Linked DNA regions of Homo sapiens. The protein of the gene in region 1 purifies or fractionates together with the protein of each later gene. This does not show direct contact. Each region holds a gene or a part of one and is shown in the gene's direction. Other genes may lie near its edges. The genes, in order: THEM5, OAT, GTPBP10, CYP24A1, NFU1, CARHSP1 and KGD4.

Region 1 (3,981 bases):
AGCACTGCCTGCTGACATGAGCCACTCCCTGGGCACGGGGTTCCCAAAACATGAGAGTATCCCTGCCAAGCTGTTTCCTCCCAAATTATTTTCTGCCCTCCCTGTCAAGCCCTCCCCCACCTCCAACTCCTATCCCCAGCCAGAGACCAGCAGGTGAAACTCTCCTGTGCTAACCCTTGTCCGGGATATAAGAAGAGGTGTTGGCCGGGTGCGGTGGCTCACGCCTGTAATCCCAGCACTTTGGGAGGTCACCTGAGGTCAGGAGTTCAAGACCAGCCTGGCTAACATGGCAAAACCCCATCTCTACTAAAAAAAATATACAAAATTTAGCTGGGTGTGGTGGTGTGTGTCTGTAATCCCAGCTACTCAGGAGGCTGAGGCAGGAGAATCACTTGAACCCAGGAGGCGGAGGTTGCAGTGAGCCGAGATCACGCCATTGCACACCAGCCTGGGCGACAAGATTGAAACTCCGTCTCACCAAAAAAAAAAAAAAAAAAAAAAAAGAGGTGTCTAAGGCTGTGAGTTGGTTTTCTTTTTTTTTATTTTTTTATTTTTATTTTTTTGAGACGGAGTCTCGCTCAGTCGCCCAGGCTGGAGTGCGGTGGCTAGATCTCAGCTCACTGCAAGCTCCACCTCCCAGGTTCACGCCATTCTCCTGCCTCAGCCCCCTGCGTAGCTGGGACTACCGGCACCCGCCACCACGCCCGGCTAATTTTTTGTATTTTTTTTAGTAGAGACGGGGTTTCACCGTGTTAGCCAGGATGGTCTCGATCTCCTAACCTCGTAATCCGCCGCCTCGGCCTCCCAAAGTGCTGGGATTACAGGCGTGAGCCACCGCACCCGGCCTGTGAGTTGGTTTTCTGAGTCACAAAATCATACCAGAGTTTTCAGAGTCCGGTATACACTGCAGAGCACATACCAAGAACACTCCACCAGCACCCTCCAATCAAGGGACAGGCTTCCCTTATCCTTCTGGAAATATTCTTGGATTCTCCCTCAGAACCCCCAGGCAGCTCTCCAAGGCTCTATATACCCCATACTATTTGTTTATGTACTTGTTTACTCCTTTTGCAACTCAAGCCAGTCCTGCTGCCTTTTCATGCCCAAGCAGCATCTGTCCCTCCCCAAGCACTGGGTGGGGCTCCTAGACCAGCTAAAGGCGCCGAGCATCTGTGGGTGTTGCAGCACACCAGCCCAGCCTCGCCTAGCTCTCTGAAAGAAAGCCTGCAACAGAAGGGAGAGAAGCGGCCCCAAGTGCAGCTGAAAGCACTCCTTGGGAGTCAGCCAAGACCCTCCATCCAAGCAGGGCTGGATCCTTGCACTTGGCCATGATAAGGAGATGCTTCCAGGTGGCAGCAAGACTTGGCCACCACAGAGGCCTTCTTGAGGCCCCCCGTATCCTGCCCAGACTCAACCCTGCCTCAGCATTTGGATCCTCCACAGACTCCATGGTGAGTTCCCAGCTCAGCCAGATGGGCAGTGTTTTCCCAGGAGCCTAGGGCTTAAGGAGCACCCCAAATCTCCTCTTCCCAGCCCATGGCCAGGGCAGGTGGGCAGTGTTCGGAGGAGCTATTTGATTTGGCAAAGAGAAAGTGCTCTGGGATACCAAGTTGCCCCCATTCAAAACTAAAACTACCAGGAGACCTGCATCTGGCTCTGTGTCTTGTGTGGCCACCAACAAATGACTTTCCTCCTGTGGGACTCAGACTACTGCAGCAAAGCTGGGGTATCCCCAGACAGAGGACCCCATCTGTGGCATTGGCAAGCAGCTCACATGCTGTCTACAGTTGTGACTGGTGTATGAGCAGGTGACGCTACAGAGGACTTCCTTACGTCACACAGATGGGCACATAGTCTGTGCCCCAGCCATGGCACCACACCTCTGTGGGGGCCCAAATGTGTTTCAAAGGAGCCACCCTGCCCAGGCAGGCCCACAGCAGTGGGCAGAGCTGGAGTAGCCCCTGAGGTGGGGGTTGCTAGAATGGTCCTCAACAACTGTGACCCTGCCCTGCAGAGGAGACAGCATCTAGTGCGACCACCAGCTCTCACAGTCACATGCTTGGCAACCTTGGCCGTATTCCCTCAGTTTCCCCATCTGTACAGTGAGGCTAATATGAGCAGTTGTCAACTTTAAAGAACTGCTCACATGTTTTAAGCAGAACAAGGGTAAGGCACCACATCGAGCAGCATGCCCATCATCTCTGGCCCCACTCCCTGCCCGCCCTTCCCTTGCTCTTTAGCATCCTTATGCCCCGTCACCCATAGGGGTCCGCAGCCCCCCTGCAAGGAATATGGGCCCTTTCCCTTGGATCGATACTCTGGCAGAAGGGATTGAGAAGCCCCAGCACCCAGGAACAGCTGTTTAGAGGTCCCGAGCCCAGGCAGCAGCCCCCCTCCAGGATGCTGTCTAGTCATTCTGATTTTTCCTGCCCAGTTCTCAAGATTCTTGCCAGAGAAGACAGACTTGAAGGATTATGCTCTTCCCAATGCCAGCTGGTGTTCGGACATGCTGAGCCTGTACCAAGAATTTCTGGAGAAGACTAAGTCTAGCGGCTGGATCAAGCTGCCCTCCTTCAAGTCCAACAGAGACCACATCCGGGGACTCAAGCTCCCATCTGGACTGGCAGTTTCCTCAGGTAAGGACAGGACCATGAGTACACACACCCCAGCCGCCCTTCCCTGTGTTCTAAGACTGAGAAGCAACTTCACAGACCGCCTTCCAGTTCTCAGCGAGTTCTTCCTGCTGTCCAACTCCACCCCTGATGCTGCAGCCCCAGGCAACAGGCGGCGGGTGTCCTCTCAGGTCTCCAGCTCCCCTCCTCCCATCTGAAGCAGCACACCCTGGTGGGCCCACCTTCGCTCCCAGCCAAGCATGTCCCCACTGGAGGACAGCCAGCCCAGCTCCTGCCCCGACTTCTCACTGACTGCCCCTCCCTAACTATCAAGCCTCATCCCAAGCCTTCCGCCCCAACCCCATGAAAGCCCTTGGACCCCACACCCCTTCCACTGAGGCCCTGCACATCATCCCTGCTGTGCGGGGTCTGGAGCAGCACTCCTGAAACACCTAATGATCCTAATGGATCCTAATGATAGAGCTTCCACCTTCTTGTGTGTGTGTGTGCACTCGTGTGTGCACGCATGTGTATCTCCCTGTCTCTCTCACTCATATATGTTGTCTTCCTGCCTAGTGATGAAGGAGTGGTACAGGGGACAGACTACCCTTGGGTTTATGGCACAAACAAAGCAGGAATACCAACATAATTTTTTTTCAAAGAATTTGATACTTCCAAAAAAGGATGTAGTAGTGGTAGCTGTCTTGGAAAAAAAAAATCAGAACTTTGATGGACTTTTCTGCTCTTATTTTACTGTTTACTATTATTCTTTTGAATTATATGTGAGTTACATGAGTAATTACATTTTCAATTTTCAATGCTTATGGTCTCTTAAAGTCTTGCCCTGGCCCTGATCCTATCTCCATTCTCAGCCAGGGCACTTCCTGCATGTTTCTGCCCTAGACAGAAAGGCTCTGTGAGGACAGCAACTGTGCCTCTGCTCCCAGAGGGAAGGCTCCCTGGGGGTGGACCTGGTGTCCTCTGGTTTTCTCTCCTTAATCTTGTACCAGAGGCAAGACTCAACCAAATGGTGCTGCATCCTGACCATACCCTCCCTTCTCCGGCTGCAACACTGCCTATCTCTCCCCAGACAAAGGTGACTGTCGCATCTTCACCAGGTGCATCCAAGTGGAAGGACAAGGCTTTGAGTATGTCATCTTTTTCCAGCCAACCCAGAAGAAGTCGGTCTGTCTTTTCCAACCAGGCTCCTACCTGGAGGGGCCCCCAGGGTAAGGTCACTGGTAGGACCTTGGCTGCCTCCTGGGCTTGGCTCAGCAGGGCAGGTTCAGCACCCACCAGGCTGGCCCTGGAGTCTCTATCTTTCTCTAAGGGGTGAGGAAGGGAGTGTGGGGCACTAGGCTTCAGCCTC
Region 2 (3,500 bases), on another chromosome or scaffold:
CATCATAGTGCTCAGCTCATTGGGAATAGAAATTAAAGCTGTTGAATATATGAATTAAAAGTACATTATATGACAGTAATGCAAATTTATCTCACTTAAGTTAAGCCACGATTTCAGACTTGTTCTCAGTAGCGATCAATTAGTTTCCAACACAGAGAAAGCTGAGTTCTGTGATCTACTCTGTACAGCCAGCCAACTACTTTAGATGTGTGTCCTTCATAACAGTTAACTTCGGTATACCTGCTTACTTACTAGGTAAAATTTCTGTTTTTAGCTAGCTTTTTAAAATTATGAAGTGGAAGACTTTTTAAGAAAGCCTTAAGTTGGCTTTAAAAGGCTATTTACTTTAGATTTAATTTAAGTAATTAATTTCTTTTTTTGAGACAGAGTCTCACTCTGTCACCTAGGCTGGAGCGCAGTGGCACAATCTCGTCTCACTGCAAACTCCGCTTCCTGGGTTCAAGTGATCCTCCTGCCTCAGCCTCCCAAGTAGCTGGAACCACAGGCACACACCACCACACCCAACTAACTTTTCTATTTTCTTTAGAGACATGGTTTCGCCACGTTGGCCAGGCTGGTCTCGAACACTTGACCTCAAGTGATCTGCCCACCTTGGCCTCCCAAGGTGCTGGGGTGACAGGCATGAGCCACTGTGCCCAGCCAGATTTAATTTAGGTACATTTGTGTATTAGAAAACAGGCTGGGCATGGTGGTACATGCCTGTAATCCCAGTGCTTTGGGAGGCCAGGGCTGGAGGAGCACTTTGTGTTCAGGAGTTCAAGACCAGCCTGGGCAGCATAGGGAGAGCCTGTCTCTACAAAAAAATTTAAAAATCAAGGTCAGGCGCGGTGACTCACGCCTGTAATCGCAGCACTTTGGGAGGCCGAGGCAGGCAGATTGCTTGAGGTCAGGAGTCGAGACCAGCCTGGCCAACAGTGAAACCAGAGACAGTGGTGAAACCCTGTCTCTACTAAAAATACAAAAAAAAATTAGCTGGGCGTGGTGCTGTGCGCCTGTAATCCCAGCTACTTGGGAGGCTGAGGCAGGAGAATTGCTGGAACCCAGGAGGCAGAGGCTGCAGTAAGCCAAGATCGTGCCACTGCACTCCAGCCTGGGTGACAGAGTGAGACTCCATCTCCAAAAAAAAAAAAATGAAAATAAATAAAAAATTAGCTGGGCATGGTGCGCAGCTACTTGGCAGGCTGAGGCAGGAGGATCACCTTGAGCCCAGGAGTTCGAGACTTTAGTGGGCCATGTTTGTGCTGCTATACTCCAGCCTGGGCAACAGAATGAGGCAAAAAAGGAAATGTAGGCTAGTGTAACTTAAAGGTGAGGTATTTGGAGCTTCTGATAATTGAATGGCAGTGAATTTGAAGTCAGAATTTACGTTAGTGCGAAAACTTGATTTGCATACTTAATGTAAAATATGTGTGGTATATGCTTTCAGATTTCCAAGTGTGGTAGAAAGGAAGTTATTAAAACTTATTCCTGTTTCTTCTGTAGCGTGCTCTTCAGGATCCAAATGTGGCTGCGTTCATGGTAGAACCAATTCAGGGTGAAGCAGGCGTTGTTGTTCCGGATCCAGGTTACCTAATGGGAGTGCGAGAGCTCTGCACCAGGCACCAGGTTGTCACGTTAGCTGTTTGTGATAAGGCTGAATGTCGAGTTAGCTGTTTGTGATGAGGCTGAATGGGCTCCTCCCCAACTCCTCTCTGAATTCTGCTGATTGGATAAATGCAAAGATTAAATTACTTTCCACTAGAGGGCGATGGCATTCTAAGAGCTTAAGTACTTCCTAGTGCTTAGAAACCTGCACAGAAGCAGACTTTTTCCTGTCTCTGGCCTTGTCCTGGGCCCTGTGCAGAACTGCAGACCTGGTCTTAACAGCGTTTCCTTCCTCGCTGCTCTAAGAGCCTTTCACTCTGAGCCCCCGCAAGCCCTTTGTTGTATTCTCTCCTCCTTTCCCCCAGGGCTAATAGTAGTATATTTTGTTTACCATTTGAGAGTTTCTGTCACATATTAAATGCTTGTGGAATAAACAAATGAATTAATTTGTTCCCAGAGGGTAGTTAGGTCCAGAAAAGCCATACAAAACCCTCACCTTTGCATCAGCACCTTTTCACTATGTAGAGCAGGGCAGAATGGGCCTCTAGGGAGATAGTGGCCTGACAAAGGAAATAGTTGGTGAGTCTACAAGATTCTTATAGGATACTCTTGAAATTGTGTGCAGTTAAAACATTTTTACAAATTTGAGGGCACATCAGAATTACACATTTATTGTTGGTGGGGGGACAGTGAAATAAGGATGGCTATTTTCCCTGTGGAAACGAAAGTGATCACTAATAGGGGTATTTTTTTTCCCCAATAGGTTCTCTTTATTGCTGATGAAATACAGACAGGATTGGCCAGAACTGGTAGATGGCTGGCTGTTGATTATGAAAATGTCAGACCTGATATAGTCCTCCTTGGAAAGGCCCTTTCTGGGGGCTTATACCCTGTAAGTTTCATGTTCCCCCTCTTTCCATTTCCTACTCTTGTAAAATATACCCCTAAAGTATTTATACATCAACTGATTGTGACAACAATGCTTTCAGATTGTTTGATTTTACCAAGTGTGCTGCAGGCCACCCGGAATATCTGTAATAAAAACATTTAAGGGACCAGTGTGTGACCCACTTACTTATTGCCTGAAGAATTGAGTGTGCCTTGGAATTTGCTATGACATTGGATTTGGGTGGAAACAGTTTACCCCCAAAGGACTCCTGTAGACTCCTGTCCTTTTTTCCAGTGTTCAGAAACATGGCATATTACTAATTGTTTAAAACCATGACTGGTGAACAAAGAGACTGAGAAAAATTAATGTTTGTTGTAGTTCATGTCTTGGGTTTGCCTTTCAGAGCCAGTAATTGTTACTACATCAGAGGTCTCTGAAGTATAGATGTTTTTGCTGAATAGACAAAACTTTTGCTAAAAAGAATGCTCAGCTTTGTTTTTTAAGCATTTAAACAAAGCATTTCATCTCGACGTTGGAAGTGATTGTGAAATTATATCATTGCAGAAATAGCTTTTCTCTTTTAGTTGCAAAATTATATTGTTTTGTGCCATTGAAGTGTACCTAAAGTATTTGTAATGTTTTAGGGTATGACTAAGTCATTAGGTTGTTACTGGTAGTTAGGTTGGCAGATGTAAACTCTTTCGTTGAAGTCATTAAGTATCAGTTTCTTGGCCGGGTGTGGTGGCTTATGCCTGCAATCCCAGCACTTTGGGAGGCCGAGGCAGGCAGATCACCTGAGGTCATGAGTTCGAGACCAGCCTGGCCAACATGGTGAAACTATATCTCTACTAAAACTACAAAATAAATAAATAAATAAATAACATGTGTGGTGTGGTGGTGGGCACCTGTAATCCTAGCTACTTGGGAGGCTGAGGCAGGAGAATTGCTTGAGTCCAGGAGGCAGAGATTGCAGTGAGCTGAGATCACGCCACTGCACTCAAGCCTG
Region 3 (4,201 bases), on another chromosome or scaffold:
TGTTAATATTCAACATTAAAGTAATCCACAGAGGGAAAATACAACTACTGCAGGTTAAATGACAACTACAGCTTTTCTGATTGGTGGTTGTAAGCAGAAGGTCCAGTAGCAGCAAAGTAATCAAGACGGGGTTTTCACATCATGTCTTTCCAAATAATCACTGTCCTAAGTGAGGAGTAGAAGACACTGTCACATTGAGGTATTAGTCAGTTTTCACAGTGCCATAAAGAACTGCGCAGACTGGGTAATTTATAAAGGAAAGAGGCTTAATTGATTCACAGTTCTACATGGCTGGGGAGGCCTTAGAAAACTTATAATCATGGCAAAAGGGGAAGCGGAAACAAGCACCTTCTTCACATGGCAAGCAGGAGAGAGAAGAAAGAAGGAGGAACTTCCAAACACTTATAAAACCGTCAGCTCTTGTGGGAACTCCCTATCAGGAGAGCGGCAGGAGAGAAACAGCCCTGCATGATCCAATCACTTCCCTACTTCCACAATGGGGATTACAAATGAAGATGAGATTTGGGTGGCGACACAGAGCCATATCGTATCAAAGTATGAAAGGTTTCTAGGATTTATTAGTTTGGGTTGTTAAGAGTTATACGGCTGGCAACGCTGTGCAGGGCCGTTTACTTCAGCTGCATACATTTTTTCGCTGCATGAGGGGTTGGGGAGAGCTACTCTCTTCTGGTCCTGAAAAGTAATCAAGAGAGAGAGGGATTTTTCACATCGTGTCTTAATTCTCACAAAGGCACGCTTCAAATGACGGATAAAAACCCGTCTTCCCGACTCCAAGAAGCTACTTTCTGACAGTTGTAAACAAGCTTCTTTCTCTTACTGCACAGGAGAGTCCTCTTACAGATCTCAGATCCTGACATTATTTTCAATAAAACTTTGTGCGGCCGCTAGTTTTAAATTCATGGTCTCCTGGAAGCTTTGGCTGGAGACTACTCAGCTCGTCACTGAACTAACGGCTTTTGGGGGTTCTTTTTTCCCAGTTGAGTTTCTGTGTCTTTTACACGTTTGGTTTTATGGTCCGTTGGAGGTTTTTTCACGCTGAGGGTGAAGATTCTTAGTTTCCTCAATTAGCATAAAAGCTGCTCCAAGGCTGCTGAGTCTTCAGTTCCATTCCATTCAAAATGTTAATTCCTGAGACACGCAACCTACGCCCTACTGTCCTTTGTCCCACGGCTTCTCGAGATTATCTCTGTGTTTTAATAGATAAAACGCCTTCTCTCCCCACCCGTGGGGTGCAAAGCACAGCGCATGGGGCTGGTGGCGCCCGAGAGCATCACACAACGCATGCGCCAGTCCGCAGGTGTGGGCGGAGGAGAAATCGCGTCGGCGGCAGGGGATGACGTAAAAAGGCCGCGCTGTACTGCGGCTTGTGCCGCTTCCGCAAGAAGGTTTCCTGGCCTGTTGCAGCCATGGTGCATTGCAGTTGCGTGTTGTTCAGAAAGGTCCGTGCGGGTCCCCTCAGCCTGGTCCCCTTAGCGCTGACAGCTCTGGTTCTTCTTTGCTCCCCTGTCTCTCCACTACTGTCTTCGTGGCGGCCTTTTCCTTGCTTGGTTTTCCCATAGACTTCTCCGCCCCTCCTGTAGTGGCGCTTTGTCAGTAAGCGGTGACAGTGGTGTGTGTACCTGGCGTGGTTTGGACGGTTGTTTGGGGGCAGGGGCAGGGTTTGAAGTTCTTTAGAGACATAGTGTGCACGTGGTATGAGGAACTGGGATACCTGCCTGCTGTGGCCCAAATGTTGTGGTGGTTTTTTTTCCTTTAATGTCCACAGCCTGTTTTTATATATTTCTCCTTGAGTGCGCTGTTTAAGGTTTTTCTAATGGATTTTTATGAAGACACGAAAGCGTGTAATTGATGTGCCTTCCTGCAGAACATTTAGGTCGATTTTTGTGTGGTGTCGGTCTTAAGAATCGTTTCCGTAAAAATTTACAACTGCTTTGAATTTTTATTTTTTAAATCTTATCCTATCAGTAATGCTTTTTGAAACGTTGCCTGCGTCATATTTGGCCATTACTTTATTTCTAACGACCAGAGTAAAATACTCCTTTTAAGTAAGGCTCCTAAACCCCTGAATCTGATTAATCTAGAGCAGGAAAAAAGTGTTACATATTTAATGGAACTGTAGAAACTCTCCTCGAGTATATCAGAATGGTCAATATTTCAACTTTCTTGAAAAAAAAATCCCATTTGTTTTTTATAATAGCTATCCTAAATGACTAGAGATGTGGATTATGAATTTAAGAAATTACTCCTTAAGTTATTTTGATTTTAATAGCCTAAGAGGTTAATACGTAAGTCCTTTACCTACAAGAAGTTCTTGATTTAGTGAAGGAAACAGGTAAACACTAAATGCAGCGTGAGATTTATAAAGGTGTAATAATAGAGATATAATCAAATTGCTGGGAGAGCCAGCAAAGTCAGAGAATTGATTAGAGGAATTTGGAAAGACGTTAGAAAATATGACGTTTAGGTGGATTTATGATAGGAAAAACAAATGACATTCTAAGTAGAGGAAAAGCATGAGCAGAATGGCATGTAGAAATGGCGGTATTTCATGTAGTACAGAGCAAAGAGGAAGAGAGGAAGGGTTGAGCAAGTGAAAAGGATACAGGAAGGAACTAGGCATGGTAGGTGAGCCTATTGTTCTTGCTACTTGGGAGGCTGAGGTGGGAGGATCCCTTAAGGCCAGGAGTTCAAGACCAGTCTGGGCAACATAGCAAGACCCCATCTTTAAAACAGTCGGGGTGGTGTGGTGCCTGTAGTCCCAGCCATTTGGGAGGCTGAAGTGGGAGAATTGCTTGAGCCCAGGAGTTTGAGGCTGCAGCAATGATAGTGCTATGATAGTGCCACGGCACTCGAGCCCAGGCACCAGAACCAGACCCTGTTTCAAAAAAAAGAAAATAAAAGATACCAGAAGGGTATTTTAGTAGCTTTGGATATACAGTTGACCCTTCAAGAACATGGGGGTTAGAGATGCCCCCGCCACAGCTGAAAATCTTCATGTAACTTTCAACTCCCCCCACAAAACAACTACTAATAATCTGTTGGCTGGAAGCCTCACTGATAACATAAGCCGTCAGTTGACACATATAAAATATATATATAGTATATACTGTATTCTTAAATTAAGCTAGAGAAAAGAAACAGTTACTAAGAAAGTCAGAAAGAAGGGAAAATATATTTACTGTTCATTAAATGGAAGTGAATTGTAAAGGTCTTCATCCTTATAGTCTTCATGTTGAATAGACTGAGGAGGAAGAGGAGGAGTTGGTCTTGCTCTCTTGGGTGGCAGAGGCAGAAGGGGTGGGGGTGGAGGAGGTGGAAGGGGAGGCAAGAGAGGCAGACACACTATGTGTAACTTTATGGAAGTACATCATAATTTCTGTCATGCTTTTGCTTTTCTCTTTCCCCCAAAAAAATGTTTCTATAGGGTACCAATACCTCTTCCACCATTTGCTTTGGTTTCAGTGCCTCTTCACAGAAGGGTCCATGTCATAAAAGAAGTCAAAAGCAGTCCTGAACAATAGGAGCTCTTCTGCCAGATTATCTAATGTTCGTTTTTCTGGTAGTTTATTCTGTGTTTTCTTCCTTGTTATCTGGCACTGGATCTGAAGCACTCATCAAGCTGTCTTCTGTTAATTCCTCTGGTTTGGTGGCTGTTAGCTCTTGAGTTTCTTCAAGATCCATATCTTGAAGTCCTTTACCCACTTTCCCGCCGTTTTTGGCATATTCACAGCCTCTTTCATGATTTCCTTGATTGGCTCTTTTGTAAATCCTGTGAAATTATAACACAACACAACACCTGGACAAAGTTTTCTCCAGCACGAACTTACTGTTTGGGGCTTATGGCTTTCATGGCTTTTTCAATAATAATGGCATCTTCAATTATGTAAACTTCAGATTTTCCTGAAGTTTTCTCTATTAGTGTTCTTTTCCATGGTTGACAATCCTTTTCGTAGAAAATCATGTTTAATGAGCCTTAAAGGTCCTTGCGACCCCGTGATCTAGAGGCTGATTTACAGACATTGTGTTTGGGGGCAAGGACACCACTTCAGTGCCTTTGATGTTGAACTCATGGGGTTCTGGGTAGCGGGGAGGTGGGGCACTGTCCATTAGCAGAGGAACTTTACAAGTCAGTCTCGTATTGGGAAGGTACTTCCTGACTTCAGGGAGAAAGCATCCATGG
Region 4 (3,500 bases), on another chromosome or scaffold:
ATACTGGATAGGTCTTAACAATATTTTTGTATTATACTAAGGTATTTGGACATTATCCCTTAGCCAGCACGGAGTCAAAGGGAGTTTTAAGCATAAAGTAATCTCTTTTTACTTCTGTTCACTTTGGATGTTTATTTTGAACTGGATGCGTCCCCAGATGGGATCATATAGGTGAAGGATTGCAAACTCAGAAGCTTCCAGGGCTCACATGACTAATATAAAATAATAAGGCAGACCCAGTAAAAATTTCAGGAAACGTGATAGTGCATGCCCCTCCCAGGAGGGACAGCAGCCCCAGTTCCAGCAAACGAATGCCATGTCAGAATGCAGACCTCATGTCACCAAGTCTCATAATTATTATTTACATTTTTAAACTAGTAGTGGTAAATCCATATGTTCATATGAAACCTCTTGTTTTTTTTAATGGTAACAAATTCAAAGAACTTTTAAATGCGCTATGCGGGCAAATTAAACTTGCAAACTAAATCCACACATGTGGGCTGTATGGCCACACCAGCTCACGGCAGGGTCCAGGATGGCAACTTATCAGCTCTGTGTGCATAAGTGAGTGACTTGGCCTCTTTAAGCCTCAGCTTTCTCATCTACTACATGGGAAATGAGTAGAGACGGTACCTACTACTACTTGGTTGTCAGAGGATCAACCAATACACTTCGTACAGTGTTTGGTACCATATGGACCTCATTAAATGTGAGGCATTAGTTATTGAAAACTCTGGTTTATGAAACTGGCATCCAAAGGTCTTATGTGACTATCCCAAGGTCATAGACTACTTAGGGAAGGAGCTGTGTCCAGAATTGGTAGATCTTCTGGTTCCAAGTTCAACATGCTTAACATAACCACCAACCAATAAAGAGACGTTTGCTTGCCCAGATGTGGAAGGGCACACCTCAGGATAGCTGCTGCAACACAATCCTTGAGATGCTGGGCCAACAGGGACAGTTAGCTGATTCCTTTGTGGTTTTATTCCCCCATTCTGATTAGAAAAAAAAAATGTTTTCCTTTTCTTAAATTGCCAGAATTATTTTTAGATCAAAAGCTGAAACTTAAGCTTCAGGGTGGCTTCAGGAAAAGCTCAGGAAATAACCCAGGACGAGGTCATTAGGGGATAAGGTGGGTTCCCAGGGAGAATATATAATTAGTGTGACTTCAGGATGAATAACATTATGGCCAGTGAATATGCGATGTAGCAAGACCTGAAGTTAGCTCAGTGAGCTTTAAAGTTTTGTTTTCCTTCAACGGCTTTAAAATGTGTCTTTTGCGGTTGTTTTCTTTGAAGGTCTTGGCCGATTTTATGGGCAGAATAGATGAGCTCTGTGATGAAAGAGGCCACGTTGAAGACTTGTACAGCGAACTGAACAAATGGTCGTTTGAAAGTAAGTTGTCGTCACAGACTTGCTCACTGATTTTGCAGGTGATTTTGCGGATAAAACATGGCTCTTTTGACAACTCTTTTGTAAACAGGCATTATTGCTGCCTAGGGAAAGGCCAGAGCAGCCCTTTTAATGCTTCTTTTAGGTGCTTAAGTTATGCCTTGAACTATGGATTGTTAATGAGTCATACAACAAACATTTGTTGAATACTTGCTGTGTGTCTGGCACTGTGCTAGGTACTAGGGATATGACAATGAATGAAACGCATAACCCCTGTACCCTTGGGGAGCTTATATGCTAGACAAGGTGACAGTCAACAAGTAAACACATTTTAAAATATACTCTTCCAAGGAGTAAAGGAAAAGAGAAAGGGAGTTAAGAAAGAACATGAAAGGCAGGCATGGTGGCACATGCCTATAATCCCAGGACTTTGGGAGGCTGAGGTGGGCAGATCGCTTGAGGCCAGCCCAGGAATCTGAGAACAGCTTGGGCAACACAGCAAAACCTTGTCTCTACAAAAAATACAAAAATTAGTCAGGGTTGGTGGCACATGCCTGTAGTCCCATCTACTTGGGAGGCTGAGGTGGGAGGATTGCTTGACCCCGGGACGCTGAAGCTAAAGTGAGCCGTGATTGTACCACTGCATTGCAGTCTGGGTGACAGTGTGAGACCCCGTCTCAAGAAAGAGAGAGAGACAGAGAAAGGAAGGAAGGAAGGAAGGAAGGAAGGAAGGAAGGAAGGAAGGAAGAAGGGAGGGAGGGAGGGAAGGAAGGAAGGAGGGAGGGAGGGAGGGAGGGAAGGCAGAAGGGAGGGAGGGAAGGAAGGAAGGAGGGAGAGAAGGAAGGAAGGAAGGAGGGAAGGAAAAGAAAAAGAGAAAGGAAAGAAAAAAGAAAAGAAATAAAGAAGAAAAGAGAGAGAGAGAAAGAAATAACATGAAAGAATGAAAGAGGGGCAAGTCTTTTTTAGTAAGAAGACATTTGAGGTAAGTCCTAAAGGAAGGGAAGGAGCAAATCATGAGGGTACCTGTGGAGGATTGTTCCAGGCAGCAGAGAAGAAAGTGCAAATGCCAGGAGGTGGAAGCATGAGCGCCGAGTTTGAGGAACTTCAAGCTGCTGGTGTGAGTGGATCACGATGAACAAGCTGGGAGGAAGGGGAGCCTGTGAAAGGAGATGAGGTCAAAAAGAAGGCAGGTGTCCAACAGGGCACAGCTCATAGGTCCTGGCAAGACTTTACCTCTCATCTGACTCAGATGGGGCAAGTAAGGGAGGGAGGACATGACCGCTTTCTTCAAAGATTACTCTGGAAATAAAGGGCAGAGCTCACTGCCCATGGGGGTGCAAGAGGAGAGCAGGCAGCTGTGATCAGGTGGGACAGCGCCTGGCTGAGGACATTCAGGGCTGTGGGAGAATCTGAGAGGGCCACCTAAGCCGGACATGGCCAGGGGTCGCTTCACAGAGATGGTGCCCCTCAGCTAAGTCCTGATGGTTGAGTAGGAGTTCACCAGGTGAAAAGGGAGGAAGGAGAGTGTCCCTGCAGAAGAAGTGCGGAATGACAAGCATATCCTGTAACAGAGGCTGGCAGAGGGCCAGCAGCCAGCTCATGGAGGGCTGTATGAGCGGGAGTTTGAATTTTAGCCTGTAAGTAACCGGGAGCTGCGGGAATGTATTCAGCAGCAGTGTGATATATGGGCAGATTTACTGGGAGGATCACTGTGGCTGCTGATGGGAGGGATAGAAGGAAAACCTATAACACTTCCATAAATTCAAGGTCAGAAATATTGCCATAAATAGATAAATATAAGTAACTTTTTTTAATTACTTATTTGAGACAGACTCTCACTCTGCCCCAGGCTGGAGTGCAGCGGCGTGATCTCGGCTCACTGCAACCTCCACCTCCTGGGTTCAAGCGATTCTCCTGCCTCAGCATCCTGAGCAGCTGGGACTACAGGTGCACACCACCATGCCTGGCTGATTTTTGTGTTTTTTAGTACAGATGGGGTTTCACCATGTTGCCCAGGCTGGTCTCGAACTGCTGACCTCAGGTGATCCACTTACCTCAGCCTCCCAAAGTGCTGGTATTGCAGGCGTGCGATACCACGCCTGACTAAC
Region 5 (3,500 bases), on another chromosome or scaffold:
ATGTACTATCTCTATATTGTTTCCTTTTTTTGTTTTTTGAGATGGAGTCTCACTCCGTCGCCCAGGCTGGAGGGCAGTGGCACGATCTCGGCTCACTGCAACCTCCGCCTCCCGGGTTCAAGCGATTCTCCTTCCTTGGCCTCCCTAGTAGCTGGGATTACAGGCCTCTGCAACCACGCCGGCTAATTTTTGTATTATTAGTAGAGAAAGGTTTTCACCATGTTGGCCAGGCTGGTCTCAAACTCCTGACCTCAGGTGATCCACCCGCCTCGGCCTCCCCAAAGTGCTGGGATTACAGGCATGAGCCACCATGCCCAGCCAAATTTCTTTCATACCCTTTAAGTAATATATATAAGTAAATTTTTTGAATAGTTGTAGGCTGTTCCGTATACTTGATCAAGCAATTACATCCTATGTTTTTTTTAAGAGAATGGGAATCTCTTTATCATCTTCTTTAAAGACAGAAAATCCATTTAATATTTTGTCTTCACATCATGAAAAACATCTTTTAATCATTTAAATCAAATTAAAACAATGAAAGTGAATGAATTAATAATAATATTATTACTAATATATTAATAATTATATTTAAATTAATTAAATATTAATTTTTATTAATTATAAATTATAATTATATTATTAATAATAATAAGTGAATGAATTAATGAATGGGGGATCTTTAAGATTTTATCTTCTGAAATTCGTTTAAACAGGACCCTTTAAGATGTGGAGCTAATATATATTCTCCAGAAGTGGTTGCCATTGCATAGGTATAGTGTGTATATAGGAAAAGATATTTTTTCTTTTCCTTTCCTTTCCTCTTTTCTTTTCTTTTTATCTCTTTTCTTTTCCTTTCCCTTTTACCTTCCTCTCTTCGCCTGCCTGCTTGCCTTCCTTCCTCCTTTCCTTTTTTCTGCTGCTTTTTTCTCTTTTTTCTTTCTTCCTTTCCCTTTATTATTTTTAAAAATATAAAAAGAGACGAAGTCTCGCTATGTTGCCCAGGCTAGTCTTAAACTCCTGGACTCAAGCAATCCTCTTGCCTCAGCTTCCCAAAATGTTGGGATTAGGCATGAACTACCACACCTGACCAGGAAAAGCTTCTTAAGAGGTGTAAGGGGGCCAGGCGCTGTGGCTCACGCCTGTAATCCCTGCACTTTGGGAGGCCGGGGTGGGTGGATCACGAGGTCAGGCTTCGACCTCTCAAAATGCTGGGATTACAGGCATGAACCACCGTGCCCAACCTTAAATATCTTGTGTTATACTGCAAATTGCCTTTTTTACTAAGTATAATAATTTTGAAATATATCCATTTCAAAAAACATAGTTCTAGTTTACTCATTTTACGTGCTGGAGAGTATTTCATTATAGGAATAAGATATAGTTAATTTGTTCCTTTATGTTCAAGGCACACACCTGTAGTCCCAGCTACTTGGGAGGCTGAGGCAGGAGAATCGCTTGAACCCAGGAGGCGGAGGTTGCAGTGAGCCAAGATCACACCACTGTACTCCATCCAGCCTGGGCAACAGAGTGAGACTCCATCTCAAAAAAAAAAAAGAAAAAAGAGGTATAAGGTAGTGTTCTGTATGGGTCTTTGCCGTTGCCTGGAAATACAGCATTTTCCTTTAAATGTTTATAGGAAAATGAAGAATTAGACTGGAATTTACTGAAACCAGATATTTATGCAACAATCATGGACTTCTTTGCATCTGGCTTACCCCTGGTTACTGAGGAAACACCTTCAGGAGAAGCAGGTAACATGTTGTATTGAGTAATTAAAATTTGTCCTTTTTTTAGACTTTTCTATTTTCTTCACATTTACCTTGATTTCAGAAGTCATAGGAATCTAGATTTCTATCATTTAATATATTTAGCTCTGCAAATTTATATATCATTTTGAAAGCTTGTGTATAAATTGGCATTACTCTATAAAACAAAAATTTTCAATTATAAAAATTTTCAAACATGCAGAAAATATCATGCTCACCAATTTGCCCTCCACTCATATCTAACAAATGTTAATTAAGTTACAGAATGGGCTTTTGGGAAAAACAAAACAAATGTTATCTTTTGCCACAGTTGCTTTAGACTCATTTTAAATAAAATATTAAACATACAGTGTCAGAATATAGAGCATAAAGTAAAAAAAAGAAACCGCTAAAACCACTGTACCCCCATCCCTTTTCCCTTCCTAGTTCCAGAGATGTGTGAAAACTTGTTTTGTTTTATACTATACATGTAAGTCTCTGCAGGGAATATATAAGACTAGTTTTTGTTTTTAAGTTTTAAATCTCTGTTTTTTTTTTTTTTTTTTTTTTTTAGAGACAGACTCTCACTCTGTCACCCCAGTTGGAGTGCAGTGACGCAATGTTGGCTCACTGCAACCCCCACCTCCCAGGTTCAAGTGTTTCTCATGCCTCAGCCTCCCAAGTAGCTGGGATTACAGGTGTGCACCACCACACCCAGCTAATTTTTGTATTTTTAGTAGAGATGGGGTTTCATCATGTTTGTCAGGCTGGTCTTGAATTCCTGACCTCAAGTGATCACCTGGCTTCAACCTCTCAAAATGCTGGGATTACAGGCATGAACCACCGTGCCTAACCTTAAATATCTTGTATTATACTGCAAATTGTCTTTTTTACTAAGTGTAATATTTTTGAAACATATCCATTTCAAAAAACATAGTTCTAGTTTACTCATTTTATGTGCTGGATAGCATTTCATTATAGGAATAAGATATAGTTAATTTGTTCCTTTATGTTCAAGTAAAGTTTTTGTACTAATTTTTATTGAAAACATTGCTGTAGTGAGCATCCTTATACAAGTCTGTTTATGAATATGTGGAGAGCTTCTTTATTTATTTGTTTATTTATTTTTATTTATTTATTTTTGGAGACAGAGTCTTGCTCTGTTGCCCAGGCTGGAGTGCAGTGGCGTGATCTCGGCTCACTGCAGCCTCTGCCTCCTGGGTTCCAGTGATTCTCCTGCCTCAGCCTTCCAAGTAGCTGGTATTACAGGCGCCCACCACCATGCCTGGGTAATTTTTGTATTTTTAGTAGAGACAGAGTTTAACCATGTTGGCCAGGCTGGTCTTGAACTCCAGACCTCATGATTCGCCTGCCTCGGCCTCCCAAAGTGCTGGGATTACAGGCATGAGCCATCGTGCCCGGCCTTATTTTTGAGACAGAGTCTTGCTCTGTCATCCAGGCTGGAGTGCAGTGGCATGATCTCAGTTCACTGCAGCCTCTGCTTCCCAGGTTCAAGCGATCCTTCTACCTCAGCCTCCCGAGTGGCTGGGATTACAGGCATGCACCACCACGCCCAGCTAGTTTTTGTATTTTTAGTAGAGGGGGTTTTGCCATGTTGGCCGGGCTGATCCCGAACTCCTGACCTCAAGTGGATTCACCTGCCTTGGCCTTCCAAAGTTGGGATTACAGGCGTGAGCCACCCTGCCTGGCCGAGAGCTTCTTTAGATTATGTTCCTAAAAGTGGAATTGCTATAT
Region 6 (3,280 bases), on another chromosome or scaffold:
GTAAATTCAGGGTACTGCCCAGCCCAGAAGAACCTGTTACCAGCTGGGAGTGGCAATGGGTGGGCAGTTGCTGGGGTCAGAATCGCTGGGCTTTAACCACACATGAGAGTCTGGTTCCCTGTGAGACTGTGAATTCTGCAGCTGCAAAATGGGCACAGCACCAGGGCTGCAAAGGACCCACATAATGCCTGGCAGATGCAGGTCTCAGGCCTTGCGAGTGGAGGATGCTTGTGTTATTAATAGTAAATCATTAGTTTCTGGAGGGATGTTCAGTGATGTTTTAGTTCAACTCCCTCTTTCCAGGAGGGAAAACAGGCCCGAGAAAATTGGCCAGGGTCATCCAAAGAGTCCTTTCCCCCAGCGTCTTTGTGAGCGGCTCCCAGGGTTGAGGGTTGTGCAGTCCTCAGCCTGTGTGACTGTACATGGCGGTCCTGGCCAGGGCTTGATGGGGCACAGCTGTGGGCAGGGGCTGGAATGAGCTTTGTGTGCCCAGGAGCGCTGATGGGGCCCCTGACATTTCCCCCTCTCTGTCAGGACGGTGCGGGCTTCACAGGGCCCCGTCTACAAAGGAGTCTGCAAATGCTTCTGCCGGTCCAAGGGCCATGGCTTCATTACTCCAGCTGATGGCGGCCCCGACATCTTCCTGCACATCTCTGAGTGAGTCAGCGGCAGGTCTGGGTGGCCTGGCTGGGGTGGGCGCTTCCTTGGCCCTGTGGAGGTGGGGATGGTGTGTGACTCTGATGGGCGCTGGGTGTGAGGACGAATGGCTGGGCCTGTGTGACTCTGCCTGTGGCTGGTGCTCCAGCTGTGCTCCTGTGTGTGTGTTGGGTTGGGGTTGTGAGACTCTACGGAGCTGTGTTGGGGGATGTGAGGCTGGGGGCGACACGGTACTTGTGATTGTCCCTGGGTGTGTCTTTGTGAATGGGTGTGTAAGGTTTTGTGTGTGCTGGGCGTGGTGGCTCACGCCTGTAATCCCAGCACTTTGGGAGGCCGAGGTGGGTGGATCACGAGGTCAGGAGATCCAGACCATTCTGGCTAATGGTGAAATCCCGTCTCTACTAAAAAAACACAAAAAAAATTAGCCGGGCATGGTGGCGGGCACCTGTAGTCCCAGCTACTCGGGAGGCTGAGGCAGGAGAATGGTGTGAACCTGGGAGGCGGAGTTTGCAATGAGCCGAGATTGCGCCACTGCACTCCAGCCTGGGCAACAAGAGCAAGACTCCATCTCAAAAAAAAAAAAAAAAAAATAATGAGCAGGGCGTGGTGACAGGTGCATGTAATCCCGGCTCCTCGGAAGGCTGAGGCAGGAGAATCACTTGAATCCAGGAGGTAGAGGTTGCAGTGAGCCGACATCTCGCCATTGCACTCCAGCCTGAGTGACAAGGGTGAAAGTCCATTTCAAAAAAAAAAAAAAGGATCGGGCATGGTGGCTCACACCTGTAGTCCCAGCACTTTGGGAGGCGGAGGCAGGCGGATCACCTGAGGTCAGGACTTCAAGACCAGCCTGGTGAAATCCTGTCATCACAAAAATACAAAAAAATAGAAAAAAAAAAAAAAAAAGCGGGGAATGATGGCGGGTGCCTGTAATCCCAGCTACTTCGGAGGCTAAGGCAGGAGAATCACTTGAACCCAGGAGGTGGAGGTTATGGTGAGCCGAGATCGCGCCATTGCACTGCAGCCTGGGCAACAAGAGCAAAACTCCATCTCAAAAAAAAAAAAAAAAAAAAAAAAAAAAAAAAAAAACAGATCTGCCCAAGATCACATAGCCAGAAAGTGATGGAAATGGATCTGGGGGTGCCCGACTATGCTTGTGGGAGACAGGGTGGTGTCAGCTGTGCATGGTGCATGTGTGTGAGCAGCAGGGACTGCTGGGGTGAGTCCGAGTGCCCATTATATCTGGCCAAGGACACCCCATGAGGCTGGGGAGCCCTGTTTGGCCTGGGGACCAGTCCAGCTTCCTGCCCTCCTTTGGGGGAGGTGGACTGGTGAGGCTGGGGGCTGTCCTGCCCCTTTGCTCCAGGAAGGAAGTTTGGGGTGGGTCTTTCTCCTCCTGCATGCTTACTGACGTCCTTCCTTCCTGAGTGTCTGAAAACCCTTGGGGAGCCGGGGGTGGGGCGCACACATCCTAGGGCTGGGCTGGAAGGCACCCAGCCCCCCATGCTTCACCTCTGATCCTCTGGGCAGCCTTTAGACAGGGGAGGACCCTCGATCTGCACCCTTGTCCCTACCTGCTTCTTTGGCCTAAGCACCCCCAAGTCTTTTACTTCAGGCAGGGGCAGACAGAGTCCTACTCTGCACAGCATACCCGCTAACACGGAAACCACATTTCTGAAAAGAGGAGCCCACTGCAATGGGGGAGTTACCCCTCCTTTGCCCACCCCCGCCCCATGCTTACCTATCAGATCGGCAGGCAGGAGAATACCAAGGTGACGCATTTCACATATGCATGCATACATGGATGTGTAAGGGTATTTCCATACTGCCTTGTCCCAGAAAGGATTTTGAATCAGTAAGGAAAACATAGAGGTTGGGGCAAAGAAATATTTAGGAAGATGGAAATATTGTGATGTCTGGTTCTGCTGCTGGAAGTAGGCTGCAGATTTATTTCTGAGCTCCCTCGTGACCAGATCAAAGAGGGAAACACTCTTCACCATACGATTCTCCAATCAAAACAAACCAGTTACTAGGGGAGCTGGCTGGCCCTTGCATTTAGCATCTGAAGGGGGTTTTCCTCTGGGGGGGTTTCATCAAGGGGACATCAAGATGCCAGTCTCATGTGAGAGGGTGACTCATGTCCCCTAGAAAGTAAGGGAACCTTCCTGGGGGTGGTCACAGGGAGAGGCCCCTCCAGGAACTAGCTTCATGCACCAAAGGGACCTTCTTGAAGGCTCACCGGGAGTCCAGGCGTGGTGGCTCACGCTTGTAATCCCAGCACTTTCGGAGGCTGAGGCAGGTGGCTCACTTAAGGTCAGGAGTTTGAGACCAGCCTGGCTAACATGGTGAAACCCTGACTTTGCTAAAAATACAAAAATTAGCTGGCTGTGGTGCCTATAGTCCCAGATACTTGGCTGAGGCAGGAGAATCACTTGAACTCGGGAGGTGGATGCAGTAAGCTGAGATCACACCACTGCACTCCAGCCTGGGCAACAGAACAAGACTCTGTCTCAAAAAAAGGCAGGCTGGGAAACTGGGGAATTTGAGAACAAAGACACGGTGCGGTTTCTGAGACTCCTGGAACCAGGGGCTGCAGTGCTGAGGACCTCAGGAAAGCCCTGCCCAG
Region 7 (3,500 bases), on another chromosome or scaffold:
GAAAAGAAAGAGAGATCAGATTGTTACTGTGTCTGTGTAGAAAGAAGTAGACACAGGAGACTCCATTTTGTTCTGTACTAAGAAAAATTCTTCTGCCTTGGGATGCTGTTAATCTATAACCTTACCCCCAACCCCGTGCTCTCTGAAACGTGCTGTGTCCACTCAGGGTTAAATGGATTAAGGGCGGTGCAAGATGTGCTTTGTTAAACAGATGCTTGAAGGCAGCATGCTCGTTAAGAGTCATCACCACTCCCTAATCTCAAGTACCCAGGGACGTAAACACTGCGGAAGGCCGCAGGGACCTCTGCCTAGGAAAACCAGAGACCTTTTTGTTCACGTGTTTATCTGCTGACCTTCTCTCCACTATTATCCTATGACCCTGCCACATCCCCCTCTCCGAGAAACACCCAAGAATGATCAATAAATACTAAAAAAAAAAAAAAAAATTAGCCAGGCAGGAGGGGTAGTGTGTGGGTGTGTACCTGTAGTCCTAGCTACTTAGGAGGCTGAGGTGGAAAGATCACTTGAGCCCAGGAGTTTGACGCTGCAGTGAACCACGATCACTCCACTGCACCCCAGCCTGTGTAACAGAGCAAGACCTGGTCTCAAAAAATAAATAATAAAGTAAAACATTTTCAGACTGGCTAACAAATGAAAATCCAGTGCTATGCTATTTATAAGAGGCATAGCTAAAACTAAGATTTGGAAAGGTAAAAATAAAGAGATAGTCAACTGATCTTTGACAAAACGAGCAAAGGGAATACAATGGAGAAAAGATAGTCTTTTCAACATGGTGCTGAAAAAATTGGATATCCATCTAGACACAGACCTCACGTTCTTCACAAACATTAACTCAAAATGGATCCTAGACCTAAATGCAAAATGCAAAACTATAAAACCCTTAGAATATAACATAGGAGAAAATAAAAATAACCTTAGGTTTAGGAATGACTTTTTAGATATAACACCAAAGGCATGATCCATGAAAAATTAATTGATAAGCTGGACTTCATTAAAATAAAAAATTCTGCTCTGTGAGACACTGTCAAAAAAAGGCAAGCCACATATTGGGAGAAAATACTTTCAAAAGACATATCTGATAAAAGACTATTATAGAAAACATAAGGCTGGGCACGGTGACTCATGCCTGTAATCCCAGCACTTTGGGAGACCAAGGCGGGCAGATCACCTGAGGTCAGGAGTTCGAGACCAGCCTGGCCAACATGGCAAAACCCCATATCTATTAAAAGTACATTTGTATAAGTATATAATACATATTTACATGCCTATACAGTTAGACCTAACTTACAAATGGTTTATTCACGTATTTGGCAACTGTTACTTGGGCATTTACCATGTAACAGGAATGCTACTGCAGAAGTGCTTAGTTTTCTGTCTCTGACTGTCCAGGAGCTTAGTGCTCTTCTATAATCATTGGCTAACTTATCTGTCCTCTGAAAACATAAGGAGAGTTTTTAACTCAGACTTTGGAATTTGGGAAAGGTTCTTAGAGAAGAGTGACATTTGAGCTGTTGTAAAGGATAAGCAGTCAGAAGGATAGGCATGGAAGTGGAATGGGATAGGAGGGAGATTTCATGGCAGAGGACGTAAGCTGTAGATGGAATGAGGATAAATAGGATGAATTGGGGAAAGGAAAAATACTTCAGAATACTTGGAGCAATGGGTACATAAGACAGTAGGGGAGAAAGGCTGGCAAAGTAGGGAGAGGCCAGATCACAATGGGTGTTGTGAGTGCCAAAGAAGAGTTTGAACTTTATCCTGAAAGCTGTGGAACATTTTTCAAACTTCTTTTTTTTCTTCTTTTAAGTTGTAGAGAGGGAGTCTCATCTTCTTGCTCAGGCTGGTCTCAAACTCCTGGGCTCAAGCCGTCTTCCCAAAGTGCTGGGATTACAGGCATGAGCCACTGACCTCAGCCAGTTTTCAAACTTCTAAATAGGGGAGTGATGATAGGATAGATAGAACATTCTCTTAAGAAGCTTGGCTATGAAAGTGAAGAAACAGTTAATAGAGAAGTTTTTTTTTTTGAGACAGAGCCTCTCTCTGTCACTCAGGCTGGAGTGCAGTGGCTCGATCTCGGACTTCCACTCCAGGGTTCAAGCAATTTTCTGCCTTAGCCTCCCGAGTAGCTGGGATTACAGGCGCCCACCACCACGCCCGGCTAATTTTTTTATTTTTTTAGTAGAGACAGGGTTTCACCGTCTTGGCCAGGCTGGTCTTGAATTCGTGACCTCATGATCCACCCGCCTTGGCCTCTCAAAGTGCTGGGATGACAGGCGTGAGTCACGGTGCGCAGCTTTTTTTTTTTTTTTTTTTTTTGAGACAAAGTCTTGCTCTTTCACCTAGGCTGGAGTGCAGTGGCACAATCTCGGCTCACTGCAACCTCTGCCTCCCAGGTTCAAGCGATTCTCCTGCCTCAGCCTCCCGAGTACCTGGGACTACAGGTGTGTGCCACCACGCCTGGCTACTTTTTTTGTATTTTTAGTAGAGACGGGGTTTCTCCGTGTTAGCCAGAATGGTCTCGATCTCCTGACCTCATGATCCACCCACCTCGGCCTCTCAAAGTGCTGGCATTACAGGTGTGAGCCACCATGCCCGGCCGAGAAGTTTTTTAGCATGGAAGACTTGAGCATGATTTTATGGTGAGGGAGAGAACACATTCCAGCATTTTCTCACAGCCACAGAATTACAGTGGTGAATTTTTAGGCCAATCCCATACCTATTTGCTTCTGTGCCCACATAAAATGCATAATATGTACTACAAATATATAAATATATTGCAGATAAACCCACCTCAGTCTTATTCGTTACATAGCAATTTATAGATTAGTTGAAAATAGTACTTTGTTCATTAGATTCTTAGCATTGTATATTCAGAAGATTTCATATTGACAGGTCCATTTAAGGTCCTCTGTACCACTATCTGGAATTTTACGGACAAAAATGTTAATACTTTTCAAACATCTGTTCCAAAAACAGTATTCCAAAAATATGTATTCCAGGCCAGGCATGGTGGCTCACGCCTGTAATCCCAGCACTTTGGGAGGCCGTTCGAAACCAGCCTGGCCAACATGGTGAAACCCTGTCTCTACTAAAAATATAAAAATTAGCCGGGTGTGGTGGCGGGCACCTGTAATCCCAGCTACTTGGGAGGCGGAGGCAGGAGAATCACTTGAACCCTTGAGGCGGAGGTTGCAGTGAGCCATGATTGCGGCACTGTACTCCAGTCTGAGTGACACAGCAAGACTCTGTCTAAAAAAAAAAAAAAAAAAGTATTCCTATGGGTATAGGAAAAAGACTAAAATAAAGTGCTATCAAATGTTTTAATTTGGGCCGGGCATGGTGGCCCATGCCTGTAATCCCAGCACTTTGGGAAGCCGAAGCAGGTGGATCATTTGAGGTCAGGAGTTCAAGACCAGCCTGGGTAAAATGGGGAAACTCCATATCTACTAAAAATACAAAAATTAGCGGGGTGTGGTGGC

Evidence for each region.
Region 2: the proteins of THEM5 (region 1) and OAT purify together in Homo sapiens (co-immunoprecipitation; one large-scale study listed by IntAct). This does not show direct contact.
Region 3: the proteins of THEM5 (region 1) and GTPBP10 purify together in Homo sapiens (affinity purification with mass spectrometry; one large-scale study listed by BioGRID and IntAct). This does not show direct contact.
Region 4: the proteins of THEM5 (region 1) and CYP24A1 purify together in Homo sapiens (affinity purification with mass spectrometry; one large-scale study listed by BioGRID and IntAct). This does not show direct contact.
Region 5: the proteins of THEM5 (region 1) and NFU1 purify together in Homo sapiens (co-immunoprecipitation; one large-scale study listed by IntAct). This does not show direct contact.
Region 6: the proteins of THEM5 (region 1) and CARHSP1 purify together in Homo sapiens (co-immunoprecipitation; one large-scale study listed by IntAct). This does not show direct contact.
Region 7: the proteins of THEM5 (region 1) and KGD4 purify together in Homo sapiens (affinity purification with mass spectrometry; one large-scale study listed by BioGRID and IntAct). This does not show direct contact.

What each region holds. Positions count from the first base shown.
Region 1 is NC_000001.11:151,850,913-151,854,893, reverse strand, and holds the start of THEM5 (acyl-coenzyme A thioesterase THEM5), read left to right. Parts: upstream 1-1,181; 5' UTR 1,182-1,328; coding exon 1,329-1,451; intron 1,452-2,434; coding exon 2,435-2,636; intron 2,637-3,358; exon of another isoform or gene 3,359-3,702; coding exon 3,703-3,841; exon of another isoform or gene 3,842-3,981. UniProt on the Homo sapiens protein: Has acyl-CoA thioesterase activity towards long-chain (C16 and C18) fatty acyl-CoA substrates, with a preference for linoleoyl-CoA and other unsaturated long-chain fatty acid-CoA esters.
Region 2 is NC_000010.11:124,401,924-124,405,423, reverse strand, and holds part of OAT (ornithine aminotransferase, mitochondrial isoform 1 precursor), read left to right. Parts: intron 1-1,503; coding exon 1,504-1,626; intron 1,627-2,368; coding exon 2,369-2,497; intron 2,498-3,500. UniProt on the Homo sapiens protein: Catalyzes the reversible interconversion of L-ornithine and 2-oxoglutarate to L-glutamate semialdehyde and L-glutamate.
Region 3 is NC_000007.14:90,345,315-90,349,515, forward strand, and holds the start of GTPBP10 (GTP-binding protein 10), read left to right. Parts: upstream 1-1,401; 5' UTR 1,402-1,427; coding exon 1,428-1,460; intron 1,461-4,201. UniProt on the Homo sapiens protein: May be involved in the ribosome maturation process. Complements an ObgE(CgtA) function in E.coli ribosome maturation. Plays a role of GTPase in vitro. When missing, disorganization of the nucleolar architecture is observed.
Region 4 is NC_000020.11:54,167,487-54,170,986, reverse strand, and holds part of CYP24A1 (1,25-dihydroxyvitamin D(3) 24-hydroxylase, mitochondrial isoform 1 precursor), read left to right. Parts: intron 1-1,298; coding exon 1,299-1,395; intron 1,396-3,500.
Region 5 is NC_000002.12:69,413,436-69,416,935, reverse strand, and holds part of NFU1 (NFU1 iron-sulfur cluster scaffold homolog, mitochondrial), read left to right. Parts: intron 1-1,636; coding exon 1,637-1,751; intron 1,752-3,500. UniProt on the Homo sapiens protein: Iron-sulfur cluster scaffold protein which can assemble [4Fe-4S] clusters and deliver them to target proteins.
Region 6 is NC_000016.10:8,855,727-8,859,006, reverse strand, and holds part of CARHSP1 (calcium-regulated heat-stable protein 1), read left to right. Parts: intron 1-534; coding exon 535-657; intron 658-3,280. UniProt on the Homo sapiens protein: Binds mRNA and regulates the stability of target mRNA. Binds single-stranded DNA (in vitro).
Region 7 is NC_000005.10:69,220,760-69,224,259, forward strand, and holds part of KGD4 (alpha-ketoglutarate dehydrogenase component 4), read left to right. Parts: intron 1-3,500. UniProt on the Homo sapiens protein: Molecular adapter that is necessary to form a stable 2-oxoglutarate dehydrogenase enzyme complex (OGDHC). Enables the specific recruitment of E3 subunit to E2 subunit in the 2-oxoglutarate dehydrogenase complex (OGDHC).